Regions from separate parts of the Homo sapiens genome. Here region 1 is linked to region 2. The links come from fine-mapping of genetic effects on gene expression. Tissue or cell type: testis. Region 2 holds a variant in brackets; the other region holds the start of a gene. All regions are shown on one strand. Distances are from middle to middle.

Region 1 (8,106 bases), 200 kb after region 2:
TAATGATGATGAAAATAAGACTATTAATGAAGCAGTTCACATCAGCCTTTTGATACTATGCTTTTATCAAGTTTGTGTAAATGAGATTATGCAAATAATAGTGATGGCTCTCACTTTGGAGCACTTATCTGAGGTCAGGAGTTCGAGACCAGCCTGGCCAGCATGGCAAAACCCCGTCTCTACTAAAAATACAAAAATTAGCTGGGTGTGGTGGTGCACACCTGTAATCCCAGCTACTCAGGAGGCTGGGGCAGCAGAATCGCTTGAACCTGGGAGGCAGAGTTTGCAGTGAGCGGAGATGATGCCACTGTACTGCAACCTGGGACAGAGTGAGACTCCATCTGCAAAAAAAAAAAAAAAAAAAAAAAAAAAAAAAAAAAAAAAAGAAGCAAAATCTGAATTTCACTCATCTTGAGTATGAACTGGCCCTAGTAACTTGTTTCTAACTAACAGAATGCAACAGAAGTGATGCTGTATGACTTCCAGGGCTTAGTTAGAATAGGTAATACAGCTTCTAACTGGCTTTCTCTCAGGAAGGTTCTCCGTGGAACCAAGGTTCTATGCTGTGTGAGAAAGCCCTGGCCACGTCAACCACCAAACATGTGAGTGAGGAAGCCTTCTAGATGATTCCACCCTAACCACCATCTGGCTAGAGCTGGATGAGAGACCTGAGGGAGAGCTGCCTAGCTGAGTCCAGTCAATCCCCAGAATTGTGAGAGAAGATGATATATGATTGTTGTTTCATCTCACTAAGTTTGGGATGGTTTGTTACACAGCGGTTGATAACTAGACCAGAGACCTTTCCTAGAAACGCTGGAGAACACGTGCCAGGATGGTCCTGGACATCTCCATTGTTTGCTGCTTGCTTCTCTACTGTGCCCATTGCCTGTGCTTTCACCAAACCCCCTATTAACCAGACATTGTCAGCTACCAGAAGTTTCCTGTCTTAGGATCTTGACACTTTTGAGACTCTTTGAAGTTACGAGACATGATGGACTTACTATCAAAAACTTGGCAAGCACAGTTACATCAGCAAGTGTTACTTTGTTCAAGTAAGAGGGGAAATAGTGCAGCATGGCAGTTAACCCTGTGCTCTCTAAGCTTTTACTGAATTTCAGTGGGTCATTCTAGAGACTTGGTAGCCACATGCGTGTCAGTTTGTTGATATTCAGTATTGATTATTCTCATAGGAGCTGTATATAATTGTTTTGAGCTTAAAACAAAGAAAATGATTAGTTTATGGTTCTAATCTTTTGGATTTTTTTTTTTTTTTTTAGACGGTGTTTCACTTTTGTCGCCCAGGCTGGAATGCAGTGGCGCGATCTCGGCTTACTGCAACCTCCACCTCCCGGGTTCAAGCGATTCTCCATCCTCAGCCTCCTGAGTAGCTGGGATTACAGGCGCCCGCCACCACACCAGGCTAATTTTTGTATTTTTAGAAGAGACAGGGTTTCACCACATTGGCCAGGCTGGTTTTGAACTCCTGACCTCAGGTGATCCACCCCCCTCGGCCTCCCAAAGTGCTGGGATTACAGGCGTGAGCCACCACGCCTGGCCTTGGATGTTTTAAAGTAAAATTTTCCCCACTGCAAAATAATAGATATGTGTTGTAGGAACTTTTGGAAACACAAGGCACAAAGGAAAAAATACCTTCATATTTCTCCTTTTCCCATCTCCCCAGAGACTTTTTTCTCCTTATTTGTTGGCATATGTCTTTCCATACTCTTCAATGCATATATATTCACAGGATAACATTATATGTGGTATTTTAGAACCACATTTCTAACATTCCATTTATCATGTTTTGTATTTGCATAGTATTCCATTTCGTAGTTGTACCATAATATCTTTAGACAATGCTTGTGGTCAAATAATTTCCCCCAATATTTTACTGTTACAAAAAATGTTTCGATGAACATTTTGGTCTAAAGTTGATGGATCAAGGAATATAGGGGTCATTATAAGTTAACAAATACAGCGTCAGATCATGGTACTACTCTGCTGAAAATCCCCCTTGGCTCCCATCTTACTCAGAGCCAAAGCTAAGGTCTTTACCATGACCTAAAATACCCTCAGCCATCCGGAGTGTGCATGTATGCATACACACAGACATGTACATGCCACTCACTCCTGCCTCTCTAGCTCATCTTCTCCTGCTCACCCCTGACTTGTTCCCCTGAAGCTATTCCTGGAATACACCAGGCAAGCAAGCCCCTGTGTCAGGGCCTTGGCACTTCTTCCTTCTGCCTATAACAATTCCTCCAAGTATCCACAGGCTTCCTCTTTCACTTCCTTTGTTGCGTTGGCTCAGATATCGCCTTATCTGAGTGCCCTTCCTTAACTATACAATACAAAATAAGTTCATGAATCTGCCCTCACCCCTACATTCCCTGTTTCCTTTACCTTGTTCTATTTTTCTATAACATTTACCTGACAAATCTTATGTTTGTTTATTGTCACTCTTCTTCCAGAATGTAAGCACTGTGAAGTCAAGGACTTTGTTAGTTTTGATCACTATTGTATCCATGGGTTCTAAAGCACTGCCTGGCACATAGTTGGCACTCAGTAAGCTAAGAAATAATAAGACTAACATATTGGGATTGTGGCAAGGAGGTAAGTATACTCCACTTTTTCAAGGGGATTATAAAGGGCATCATTTTTAGGTGGGAGATATTGGACATAGGAGTTTGTGAACCAAGAGACAGAGAAAGATGTTACTTGGAGATATGGAGGTTATAAGTATCAGAAGATTAGAAGTTCCGGGGATGTTTTAAAGTAAAATTTTTCCCATTGCAAAATAATAGATATCTGTTGTAGGAACGTTTAGAAATACAACTAAAGCACTTTTTGCTTTACTTGGAGTGGGTGGGACTGGAATTGGGAGGAGGGGCCATGGAGAGGCTGCTTTTTTTCATTGTGCATCTTTCTGTAAGACGTGAATTTATACCATGTACACCAATTACTTAAATAATAAGAGCATGTTTGGACTTCCAGTTTCTGGTGATGGCTGGTTATGAAAACTTGAAGAAACAAAATAATGGCTTTTTTTAAGTGAAGAACTAAAAAAACATTGAACTTCCAGGCCAGTTTTTGGATAAAAGTCTATAACCAGGGAGGGAAATGGAATACTGGAACAAAAAGCTGCCTGTGCTGAGACAGCAGTTGCTGATACCACAAACACTTGTCTGCTGTTTCTGTGGCCTGGCTGAGCCAAGAAAACATGTTAAAGCACAGAGCCCACGCAAGACAGTGTGCTTGCAGGAGACCCTACCAACAGGAATCGGATAACAAGGAGCTAAAGGTAAGGAGGAGTCAGAGCTGAACCCAGTGCCCTCTTCCCAGCAGTTGTAATGAACTGTGGCTACCTTGGTGCTCTTGGAGCAGGGAGGAAAAGAAATAGAAAATACAATTTCCCTGGAAGGCCTGTGCATATCTGCTTCCCTGAAGATTAGCTTCTCAAATATACATAGCTGGTTGGGCCAAGGATTCTCAAAATCTGAATTCGGCAGAAGCACAGCAAGATCTCTCTGGAAGAGGGCTCATCTCAAGCGTCAGGAGACTCCCGTTAAATACTTATTCAAGAATAATGTGTGGCAAGCGATAAAGATTACAAGTTACCCAAGCAACTTGAATATGAATGAGAATAGAAAATCACAGAAGCCCAGCTTCTTCCACTTAGCATAATCATTTGAGTCATCCATGTTGTCATGTGTATTCAGCAGCTTGGTCCTTTTAATTGCTGAGTGGCAATCCATAGTTTACTCATCCATTTACTAGTGGAAGATTTGTGTTGGTTCCAGTTTTTAGTGACAGTGGTTAAGCTGCTGTTAACATTCACCTAGAAGTTTTTTTGTTTTGTTTTGTTTTGTTTTTGAGACAGAGTCTCGCTCTGTCGCCAGGCTGGAGTGCAGTGGTCCGATCTTGGCTCACTGCAACCTCCGCCTCCCAGGTTCAAGTGATTCTCCTGCCTCAGCCTCCCTAGTAGCTGGGATTACAGGCACATGCCACCACGCCCAGCTAATTTTTGCATTTTTAGTAGAGACTGGGTTTCACCATGTTGGCCAGGATGGTCTTGATCTCTTGACCTCATGATCCGCCTGCCTCTGTCCCGCAAAGTGCTGGGATTACAGGCGTCAGCCACTGCGCCCGGCCTCACCTAGAAGTTTTTATGTGAATCAAAGATTTTGTTTCTCTTGAGTACATTCCTAGGAGTGGGATAGCTAGTTATATGATAAATATGTATATATACTTAGTAGGAAATTGCCAAACAGGTTTGCAAACTGGTGGTGCCACTTTGCATTCCCACCAAAAATGTATGAAAATTCCAGGTGATTGGCATCCTCACCAGAATTTGATATTGTCTGCAGTTTTGATGTTTTTGCTATTTTTTTGTTTTGACTTGGGTATACGGTGCATTTCATTGTGTTTTTCATTTTCATTCTCCCAATGCAAATGATGTTGTGTATTTTTTCATATTCTTCTTTGCTACAGGTATATTTTCTTTAGTGAAGTGTCTATTCAACCCTTTGGCACATTTTTGAAAAACTGGATTGTATGTTTTCTTACTGAATCTTGAGAATTCTTTGTATATTCTTGATACAAATCCTTTATCAAAAATATGGTTTTGGCCAGGTGTGGTGGCTCACGCTTGTAATCCCAGCACTTTGGGAGGCCAAGGTGGGCAAATTGCTTGAGCCCAGGAGTTCGAGACAAGCCTGGGCAGCATGGTGAAACCCCATCTCTACAAAAAAAAAAAAAAGTACAAAAAATACAAAAAATTAGCCAGGCATGGTGGTGGCACACGCCTTTTGTCCCAGCTACCTGGGCGGTTGTGGCTGTAGTGAGCCATGATTGTGCTGCTGCACTTCAGCCTGGGAGACAGAGTGACACCCTGTCTTTAAAAAAAAAAAAATTATATATATATATATATATATGTCAAATATATATATATATATGTCAAATATATATATATGTCAAATATATATATGTCAAATATATATGTCAAATATATACATATATATGTCATATATACATATATATGTATATATATACATATATATGTCATATATATAACATATATATGTCATATATATACATATATATGTCATATATATATACATATATATGTCATATACACATATATATGTCATATATATACATATATATGTCACATATATATACATATATATGACATATATACATATATGGCATATATACATATATATGGCATATATATACATATATATGGCATATATATACATATATGTCATATATACATATATATGTCATATATATACACATATATGTCATATATATACATATATATGTCATATATATACATATATATGTCATATATACATATATATGTCATATATACATATATATGTCATATATATACACATATATATATGTCATATATATATACGACATATATATATGTCATATATATATACATATATATATATGTCATATATATATACATATATATATGACTTGCAAGTATTTTCTATTTTCTCCCAGTCTGGCTTGTTCTTTTGTTTTCTTAGCAATGTCTTTTGAAGAGCAGACATTTAAAATTTTGATGGAAGTTCAATTTATTGGGTCTTTTTCTTTTTTGAATTGTGCTTTTGGTGTCAAATCTAAGAAATGTTTGGTAAACCCAAAGTTACAAAGATCTGTCTTCTAGAAAAGAGGTGAGCAAACTTTTTCTGTAAAGGGCCAAATAGAAAATATTTTAGGCTTTACAGGTCATAGTCACTGTTGTAGCATGTAAGCAGCCATAAAATACATAAATGAATAGGTGTTCAGTAAAACTGTTTTTACAAAAACAGATAAAGATTTGGCCCATGAGCCTTAGTTTGCTAACTCTTGTTGTAGAAGATTTAGGTATTGCAGTTAAGGTATGATCCATTTCTAGTTACTTTTTTTATGTGGTGCAAGCAATGGGTGGAGAGTTTTGTTTTTGTTTTTGTGTATGTATATACACTTATTCTAGCATTATTTGTTAAAAAGACTGTTCTTTATCCACTGTATTATCTTTACACCTTGTTTAAAATCAGTTATTCATGGGTGTGGATTTATTTCTGAATTTTCTTTTCTGCATCTGTGTCTGCCCCTTCTTTATGACTATACTGTCTTAATTACTGTGGCTTTGTAGTAAGTTTTGAAATTGGGTAGTGTGAGTCCTCCAGCTTTATTTTTTTTTTCCTCAAATGTTTTAGTTTTTATAGCTCCTTTGCCCCTCCATATAAATTTTGGAATCAGCCTATTAATTACTACCAGACTTCCTACTGGGATTTTGATTGGGATTGCATTGAACCTATAGATCAATTTTGACATCTTAACAATATTGAGTCCTGTTACCAGTGAATGTAATATATCTCACCATTTATTTCAGTTTTTTGTTTGTTTGTTTTTGTTTTTTTTGAGACAGAGTCTCTCTCTGTCACCCAGGCTGGAGTGCAGTGGTGCAATCTTGGCTCACTGCAACCTCCACTTCCTGGGTTCAAGTGATTCTCCTGCCTCAGCCTCCTGAGTAGCTGGGATTACAGGCACGTGCTACCACGCCCGGATAATTTTTGTATTTTTAGTCGAGATGGGGTTTCACCATGTTGGTTGGGCTGGTCTCAAACTCCTGACCTCGTGATCTGCCAGCCTCAGCTTCCCAAAGTGCTGGGATTACAGTCGTGAGCCACCACACCCAGCCTATTTCAGTATTTTAAAGTGTCTTTCATCAGCGTTTTATGGTTTTCAATATACAAATCTTTTACATAATTTGATAGGTTTATACTTGAGTATTCATGATTTTTAGTGCTATTGTAAATTGTAAATAATACTGTTTTAAAGTTTTTAATATTCAGTTCATTGCTGTTATATGAAACTGACTGATTTTTCTATATTTCCTTTTGTATCCTGTGATCTTCCTAAACTCACTTACTTGTTCTAGTAGCTTTTTTTTTTTTTTTTGTAGATTCTCTGGAATTTTCTGCATAGACAATTATGTTGTCCACAGATCGAAACCATTTATTCCTTTCTAATCTGTACGCCTTTTCTTTTCTTTTTTTCTCTTTTTATTGTTTGCTCCTCCTTCCCTTCATGTGTCACTTTCCACCTCTGTCCCTTCTCTCCCCTTCCCTCTCTCACTCCTCCCTTATTACATTGGCTAATATGAATAGATCTCACTACTAACAGCCGAGAGCCTTGCGTGTTCTTGAACTTAAAGGGAAAGCATTCAGTCTTTTGCTAAGAGGATTTATTATGACTGGATATTGAATTTTGGCAATTTTTTTCCCCATCAAATGAAATCATATGATTTTTCTAATCAGCTGATAGGATGACTTCCTTGATTAATTTTTGAATGTTGACCCAACTTTTTATGTATTTATGGATTCAATTTGCTAAAATGTGGTTGAAGACTTTTTATATGTATGTCTGTGAAGGACATGGTCTGTTGTTTTCTTGCAGTATCTTTGGTTTTGGTGTCAGGGTAATGGAGGGCTCATTAAGAAAGTTGAGAAGTGTTCTCTCCCCTTTCATTTTCTGAAAGAGTTTGTATAGAATGCTATAATTTCCTCTGCAATCTGTTGTACTGCTTTAGCTGCATCTCTCAAATTTTGATTTGTTGGTTGAAAAGAAGCCATGTAGGAATGTGGGGTCATCTGTATTGGGAGTGCAAATGATATGGTTTGGGTCTGTGTTCCCACCCAAATCTCACCTTGAATTGTAATAATCCCCACGTGTCGTGAGAGGGACCCAGTAGGAGGTAATTCATTCATGGGGGCGAGTCTTTCCCGTGCTATTCTTGTGATAGTGAAGAAGTCTCATGAGATCTGATGGTTTTATAAAGTGGAGTTCTGTACACGCTGTCTTGCCTGCCACCATGTAAGAGGTGACTTTGCTCCTTCTTGCCTTCTGCCATTGATTGTGAGGCCTCCCCAGCCATTTGGAACTGTGAGTCCATTAAGCCTCTTTCATTTGTAAATTACCCACGCTTGGGTATGTCTTTATTAGCAGTACGAGAACAGATTAATACAGTAACATACATCACAGTAGGTATGAGCCAACTACTTGTGCCTTGAGGTGGGCAGATTTCCTGAGTGAATGTAA
Region 2 (8,106 bases):
GGGAGGATCACTTGAGCCTAGGAGTTTGAGATCAACCTGGGCAACATGGCGAAAACTAATCTCTACCAAAAAAAAAAAAAAAAAAGTTAGCTGGGCATGATGGCACGCACCTGTAATCCCATCTACCTGGGAGGCTGAGGTGGGAGGATCATCTGAGCCCAGGAGGTCAAGGCTGGCAAAGAGGGCAAGGAAAGAGCTCCAGGGAGAGGGAGGAGCGTGGGCCTGTGGGAGGGCTGGCTGAAGACCAGGCTGGAGGTAGAGTGGGCCTGCATTTGAAGGACACCTATGCCAAGTAAGACAAGCACTGGAATAATCCTAACCTCAGGATGATAACAACTTCACAAAGCCTTTCAGACACCTGTGGATATTTCCCCTTCAGAATGCTCCTGAGCCTCATTCATTCATTCAACAAGTGTCGAGGAAGCATGTTTCATGTGCATGTGCTGGTGAGGAGCTGGGACTACTCAGTGAAGTCAGATGCCATCTGTACAATGGAGGAAACAACAGCCTGGCCCTGAGGAGAAGCATCATGGATGCAGGCTTGCTTCTGCCCATCATCTCTTTACGGCATAGCCCTGCTTGCAGTCAGTGTGGTTTCATTGGCACTAATGTCACCTCTGCTAGCTCCAAGGAGGAGGGTGTGACCAGCCCTGGCTAATCAGAGTATCACAATCCTTTTGACCATTGTGATTGGTTCAGAAATTGACACATGACCTGAGTTCAGCCATTTAAATCCTTCCCCAGGACTTTTGGTGGAGCTAATGAGGAAGGCACCCGCCATCTGAAACAGCAAATAAGAACAGGGTGAGCCTGGAGATGTCAGGAGCTGCCTTTGCCGCCTCATGGAAAAAGCTTGCCTGAAATTAGAGCCAACACAGAGGAAAGGAGATCTAAAAGGTGGGTAGACAGATGCTTGAGTTCCTGGGTCTAGCTGTAACTCCTCCTAGATGGTTGGGTGTCTGACTTTGTAGTTACAGGAACCAACAAGGTCACTTTTTTGTTTAAGTTAATGGAAGTTGAGGCTTTCTCGACTTACAAGCAAGAATTCTGATTAATACAGCAGACACCTGGGCCACCAACTTCACAATGATCTGATAAATGCCATTATAATAGAGGAAAGACAAGGGGGCGGGACAGTGTAATGTGGGAGGGGCTGGTGCAGCTCATGCTGCTGGCCTGGCTCATCTGTGTCAGCTCCACCCTGGACGTCCCCTGTGGCATCAGAAGACAGTTTTCATGAATATTGTCGGCTTTCTAGCTCAAGGTCCTGTGTAGGTGTGTGCTCAACCCAGCCACAGGACAGGTTGGAAGTGCTGAGTGGTTAGGACTCAGGGACAAATCTTTAACCCATGAAGGATTGCATTTAGAGTTTCAGCACCCCAGCTCCCCTACTTCCGGGTGGAATAGTTCAGAGGTGTTCTTTTCTTAACCCTTCAGAAGGTCCCTGGCAGGTTGGGCTGAATTGTCCATAGATGGACCCTTTTGCTGGCTTTCCTCCTTTCTCTGTCTCACTCCCCTATTCCTCACCTGGGTATCCTGGGATCACCTCCCAAATAGAGCATTTGCACCCAAACCCTAATCTCAAGGGTCTACTTTTGGAGAACACAAACTCAGACAGAAGTCCTCTGCAGGCCAACCATATAGGTTTGGATCCCAATGATGATGCTTCCTGTTTGACTTTGGACAATGTATTTAATTGTATGCCTCAGTTTCCTCATCTATAAAAAGAAGATGGTAATTTCACCAATCTTAGAAAATTGTTGTGAGGTTGAAATGAGGTACCATATACAAAGAGCTCACAACAATGTAAGTGCTGCATAAATACCGGTTATTGTTCTTATTATTCTTCTTATTCTTGTTATTGAGTGTTGTCTAAGCACGACCCCAGGGTCTGGGAAATCTTGGAAGAGGTGACACTTCAGCTGAATCCTGAAGGATCAGCAGGAGCTGGGATGAAAAGGAAGGAGAGGGCCACATCGAGCAGAGGGAATGAAAGGCTCCACTTTGGAAGTCGCTTCTCTGTCTAAGCTAATAATTCTAGGAGATTATACCCTTTCTAAAGCATCTGAAAATACCTTCTTTGGTTACAAGATAATTTTTGATATCACTTTTTGTTTTGTATCCACTGCAGAAGAATTAGAGTAGGAGTGGCAAAAAGGACTTTGAGTCCTGTAAGAGTTAAATCACCCAAATGAGATGTGTGTGTGTGCACGTGTGTGTGTGTGTGTGTGTGTGTGTGTGTGTGTGTGTGTGTGTGTGACATTTTCTCCCAAGACAGGAAAAGGGCCTGCAGAATGTAGTCCCAAGAAGGGATATGCCATGCTCCATTTGAGTTCCTGGGTTTGACAGCAGGACTTCACAGGGGCATGTGTCTGGTGCACTTAGAGACTAAAGCCCAGACACCAGGGTCCCAGTTTGACAAAGAGCCCTGTCCCTGAGATTGGCATGAGAGCCATGGGCTTGGGAAAAAGTGTAACATCAGAGACTGGTGTTGGCTGAAGACCAGAGAGCCCTTTCCTGTATGTTTTGCTCCATATGCTGACTCTTGTTCTTGGTGGGTTGTTTTCTTATATGGTTTGTAATCTCACTTTAGTCAGGCTTTATCTACATGGTCTGGGTTGAAGATGTGGCCCTCCAGGGTGGTTCTGCTTTTGATTCTGCCTAATGTCTCAGGGGTATTACAGGCTTAGAACCAAGTTTTATGTTCTTTTCTTTTACCATATCGTGCAAGCAATGTAAATTTCAAGTCCTAAAATGGAAGCGGGCGTGTGGTTAGGAACGATCATGGAATACATTTTCCCCATGCAAAGTAGGACAAAAACAGACAAGTTTCCTTGTTGTCTCAGTTTGCTGATGAATGGATTTTACCCTAGCTAACTGTTTTGTTAAGTATATAGCTCTGCGGAGTGACAGTTTCATAAGGGGGTTTCAATTCTCATTCTTCATCTTATGTGGGACCAAGGCTTTCTCTCTGATTCACAAAAAACATTAAAATTCAAGTACTGTATTAATTGGGATATATTATTAGCAGCTTCAACAGAGACCCCAAATAGCAGTAGCTTAGATGGGAAAGTTTAGCTCTTTTTCATATGAAAGTCCATGCTGGCACTGTGAAGTAGTCAGAGGTTCAGGTTCCTTCCATATCATCACCTTATCATCCCTAGGGTGCTGACGTGGCCCGAAAGGGGTCTCAGCTATGCCTATGTTCATGGGTCAAGCTGAAAGTCATCGAAGGATTGAGAACAAGGATATGGGAGAAATAACAAGACAAGTCTCTGTAGAGACTGC[A/G]ATGCCTCTGCTCCAGTGGAGTTGAGATCAGATTTGGATAATCAAAGACATGTGACACGAATTCAGCACCCATAGTAGATGGTAATTAAGCCCACAGCACTTCGAGTAGTGAGGAAACCATCAGGCTATGGGTGGTGTAGACAAGCTAAGTAGGTGTAAAGTAGTAAACATATTTGTGTATATATATGTGTGTATATATATATATACACATATATATGGTATATATGTGTGTGGTATGTCACTGTGGTGTGTGTGTGTATGGTGTGCGTGTGTATGTATGTGTGGTGTATGTGTCTATGAGTGTGAGATGCTGTACATGTCTTTGTGTCTCTGTCTCTAGTGCATGTGTTTGTACAGGTGTGTAGGGGTTATGTGTGTACCAGTGTGTATATTTATATGTGTTGTGTGCATGTGTGTCTATCCATGAGCTCTGTGAAGCTAGACCCTTTTTTCTGTCACCATTCATTGGAATAAACCATACCTTTAGGATTAAATTATTTGCTAGTCAATCATATTAAGTATAAATCTCATTCCACAAACACACGTGTGCATGAAATAAAATATCGTTTTTCTTCAGCAGAAGTTAATTTCCATCATAACTCCCATCTCTTCCTCCTTTTGAGATTGTCTGAGTTCCAGAGGACTCATGTAGCACCAGCATGTGAGACCTAGGACCAGGGCTGGGTGGGGGCAGCAGGAGGCAGGGAAACCTGTCCCAATTTCGAGGGCCAGAGGTCTGGAAGGAGATCTGGGCCCAGCTATGCTGTGTATCATACAGTGGTGGTCGAGCACCTCTCAGAGGCCCTGCTTGGGACTTGGGTTGTGGATTGTAGTCATTTGCTGTTTTGGTTGTTGATTCACTGGTGAGTGACCCCTTCTGTCCCTGCTCTTTGTGCTAGTTTAGTGCCACCCTTGGGCACATGTGAGCCAACTGCTGTCATGGAAAACTTGGTAAGTTCCGCAGCCCAGCTCTGCCATCTTGCCACTTCCACAGATCTCCCACTCACTCTGCTCTCTCAGACTGTGGCTTCCTGCCTGCCCCTCTCTGAGTCTCAGTCTGGAGCAGGCATGGTGTACCTCTCCACAACCCACCAGTGTCAACCACTGCTGCTTCTCTGCTGTCCTTTACCTAACTGGGAGAACTTTAGTCTGGGTGAGGCAGGGGGCAGGGGGGATGAGGTAAACTTTATGTCCTCCCATCAGATACTCTTGCAAATCTAATGCACATGCCCTGTGTTTTTCCTATTGCTCCCAAGGCTTAGGCTTTTGGAAATTAAAAGCCAAGAACTGACTCTTTAAATGTTTTCTCAACTTTCCGCTGTGCCTCCTTATCCCAGAGGCAAGGATACTGTGCCAAGTTGACTGATGCGGAAAGGACACATGGTGGAAAGACAGAGGAGAAAAACACATCAGAAAATACATCATGAAGCATATGACCATGCCAGGAGAACCTCATGCTGCTACTGAATAGGATAAAATAGCTTCCTGCAATCAGGACTGGGGACCCTGTTTCACACAACAGTGTCTGGCACATGTTTTTGCCCTAGAAGCCTGCATAACCCCTGAGACTTGTCATCAGTGTGACTAGCTGGGGCTGGTGTCATGGGCAATAAAGGAATTTACCAAGACAGTTGTAGGTATAGAAAGGCAGAATTATTAGAGAAGATATGAAAGTATGTTGCAAGGTTGCAATAGGCAGCACAGCAGAGAAGGGGCTACTTGCGAAGAGGCAGGGGCCGGAGGAGAGTTTACAGGGTCGTGCTGAAGGGGGCTACAAGTGGAAGAAGGTTGTGCTGCTGGGGCTACATGTGGAATAAGGTCATTGTGCCTTTGGGTTGTTTGTAATTAGCCATCTCTCAGAAAAATTATTCATGGTTCTCCCCACCTGGGGCCCCTTCCTCATTGTTGCTTACCTTTCAGGACCCTACATTCCACCCCAAGAGAAAACAATGACAAATCTTTGGCATTGGGGCAGAGAACTCGTCTTCCAACTACTTCCTGCTGGCCTGGGGTGTAGAATTGACCCTACCTATGGTTGTTGGTCTGATAGGAGACCCTGTAGGTCATTGTCCCGGATTGTGGTACTTAGGATATTGCATCTTGCTGGAGGAAGGGACTCATCACAAAGGGGGAACATGTCAAGGTGAAACTGGTGTCTTGCAGAATCCAGGGGAGATTCATAAAGGTAGCAGGCATCCCTGGGGTGAGACAGATATTCCATTCACAGCATCATTTGAAGGTGAAACTGCTCAATTCCAGTAGGGGAAATTTTGTTTCTTAAGCCAGTTACCAAAAAGGCAAAGAAAAACCTTTTGCAGTGTGACTGTTTGTCCTTATTGGAAGCCCATTTAGATAACCTGGAAGTTGAACTCAATGAAAAAGTGTTTAAATTTAATTAGACACAGCATAGGGAACCAATTTTAGAGAGACTACTATACCTTAATTACATACAATATTCCTTTTATAAATTTCCATTCATAGATTTTCTCATGACTTATGCAGACCATCTATGACACACTTGGACTTTCTGTCTTGTCCTAAACATCCCTCTTTTTAAAACAACCAGTCATTTTACTTTAGGCCAAGAATTTACCATACAAGATCCTTTCTTATATAAATCCTCTTTTCTACAACCTTCCTTACCAAAAAATACCTCTTTACTTTTATAACTTTTTTATGTCTCTCTTATTTCCTGATTCCTTTGATCTTGTTTAATATAAAACCTTTAAATAACCTTTGAATTAGACAAAAATTATTTTATTTTGTTAGGAAGTTAAGGTTTGTACTGCATATTGCTGTGTTAATACATATTGTCCATGAAGGGGGAGCAAATGAGGAGGTGATCTACATACTGTAGGTTATCCCCCCTCAAGAAATTGTTGGGTTAGATTCTTGCTAGGACTTGTCTGAATAAGTGTGAGCTATTTTTAAAACCCTGAGTTAGGTAGGACTATTTAGGTTGAAGTTATTGGTTAAAGATTTAGGTAGCTTTCCTGGGAGAAATAGGACTATTAGAGGGAAAGATGAATGCAGAGGTTGGGCAAATATTAAAGCAGGCACCCATCTTGGAAAGTATATTTCCGTCCCAAAGGGGTATGAAGTATTTAGACATTACTGGGGACTTGGGAGAATGGTAATTGGACCCTTCAGTAACATAAAGAAATGTGAATCTTTTCTTTTGGAGGGAGGGGGTGTCATTTGCTCCAATTACCCAACAGGATTTGGAGGAGAGTTGCTCAGAGAAGGAGATTAGTACAGAGTAGGCAGCTCTTGAACCCAAAAGGGAAATTTATCATTTTACTTTCCATCTCTAGGGTTGTCCTTGGCTTTGTCTTGTTGATGATAATGTTTGATTTGGAAGCCAGCTGGAGCAGAGAGCCCCTTTCTCTCAGGGCCATCAGAGGTTGGAATTCTGTCCCAGGGACACTTCAGCTCTCAGGGCAGTCTTGTTTCCAGTGGCCAAGCTTGTGACAGAGGGGGCAAGACACAGAGGGCTTTTTCCGTTTATTCCTTTGGGTCAGTTTGCTTTCCAGTGGCCTGGCCTTCTGCACTGGTGGCAGTTACCTGGAGGGATGTTCTTAGGGCAACCTGGAAGGGGCTGGGGGCTTGTAAAGCAGCCAGCAGCTGAGCCTGCCTCTTGTCCCTTTGTTTTTCTTTCTTCTTAGCCCTGTCCTCCCTATTCTGCTCTCAGTTATAAAAAACTGAGGAGGCTAATTTGAGGACTTCCTGCAATGGGGCCATGCTGTGTTACACAAGAAAACTAGATGCTCCTTTTTGAGAATCTGAGGATTAAATTTATCCTAATGTTTTAGAATGTAACCCAGAGGTGGCTCTGAATGAAAAGATGGGGTTTGTCCCATGGTGAGACTAGAAAACGACAAGCAACTGAGGATGATGTCTACTAGAGTGGGACACAAGTCGCACTTTCTCTTGGGGCAGGCATCCCACTGAAGAAAGGGGTTCCACTCAAGTCCACTGGGGGACTTCTCAGATGCATTCCTAGAGGGGTGTCCCACCTATTAGGAAGGATCTCCTGGCGTAGGGCCTTACGCTGTATGGCCAGTCCAGGCATGAGGAATGAGGGTGAAGGGAGAACTCAGCTGGAAAGCAACCTAGAAGAGGGGAGAGGAATGGGGAGACTCACTGCTCTGTGGCCACTTGAGATCACCTGATTTGGGAACACCTGGAGCAGGAAGTCTGGCTGTCTTCATGGGAGAATTTAGAGTGAGAAAGAGGTGGTCCGAGTTCCCCAGAACATGTGCAGGTTTGTCTTGGTTGAGCTTTCACCACCAATCATGCTATAAGTAAGGATTGGGGGCTTTTGACTAGAAAGGATAAGAGAGAGCCTTATTCCCTTCTGGGAAAGACAGCCAACCCTGTTTACCCCCTGGACTTCAGGCAACACCAGAGAGCAGCCCTGACCAGTTACTGTAAGTTGACAAAGGGATACTAGACGTTGGCTGCTGGAAGACTGAAAAGGAGAAACTGAACTAAGGTCCCTCATCTGATCAGGTGATGGTGGTAAGATGCTTCCACATGGACACCTTCTAGCTTCATCAGGGTATAGCCCTGCCAGAGACTGTCAGTTGTTTCTGTTTTTGTGTGCTGTCCACGAAGGGTCCCCAGTTGGAAGAGAGAAAGGGAAAGGGGAGAGAGGTCCCTGTAAGAGCCAAAGAAATATTGTAGGTGCGAATAGCTGGGGCTGGTGTCATGGGCCATAAAGGAATTTACCAAGACAGTTGTAGATAAAGAAAGGCAGATTTATTAGAGAAGCTATGAAAATACGTTGCAAGGTTGCAATGAGCAGCACAACAGAGA

Evidence for each region. PIP is the estimated chance that this variant, and not a neighbour inherited with it, causes the effect.
Region 1: LINC01176 starts here. The variant in region 2 is fine-mapped to the expression of LINC01176 in testis (GTEx, PIP above 0.99).

What each region holds. Positions count from the first base shown.
Region 1 is chr7:30,387,735-30,395,840 of GRCh38, forward strand. LINC01176 (long intergenic non-protein coding RNA 1176) reads left to right here and starts at 3,151. Exons shown (of 3, transcript NR_108081.1): 1 at 3,151-3,301. RefSeq lists an enhancer at 3,333-3,951.
Region 2 is chr7:30,190,838-30,198,943 of GRCh38, forward strand. LOC124901607 (a long non-coding RNA gene) reads left to right here. Exons shown (of 3, transcript XR_007060274.1): 1 at 1-8,106. Among named protein-coding and RNA genes, the nearest start is that of MTURN, 60 kb to the left of the region's middle. The variant A/G (reference allele first, on the strand shown) is at 3,289.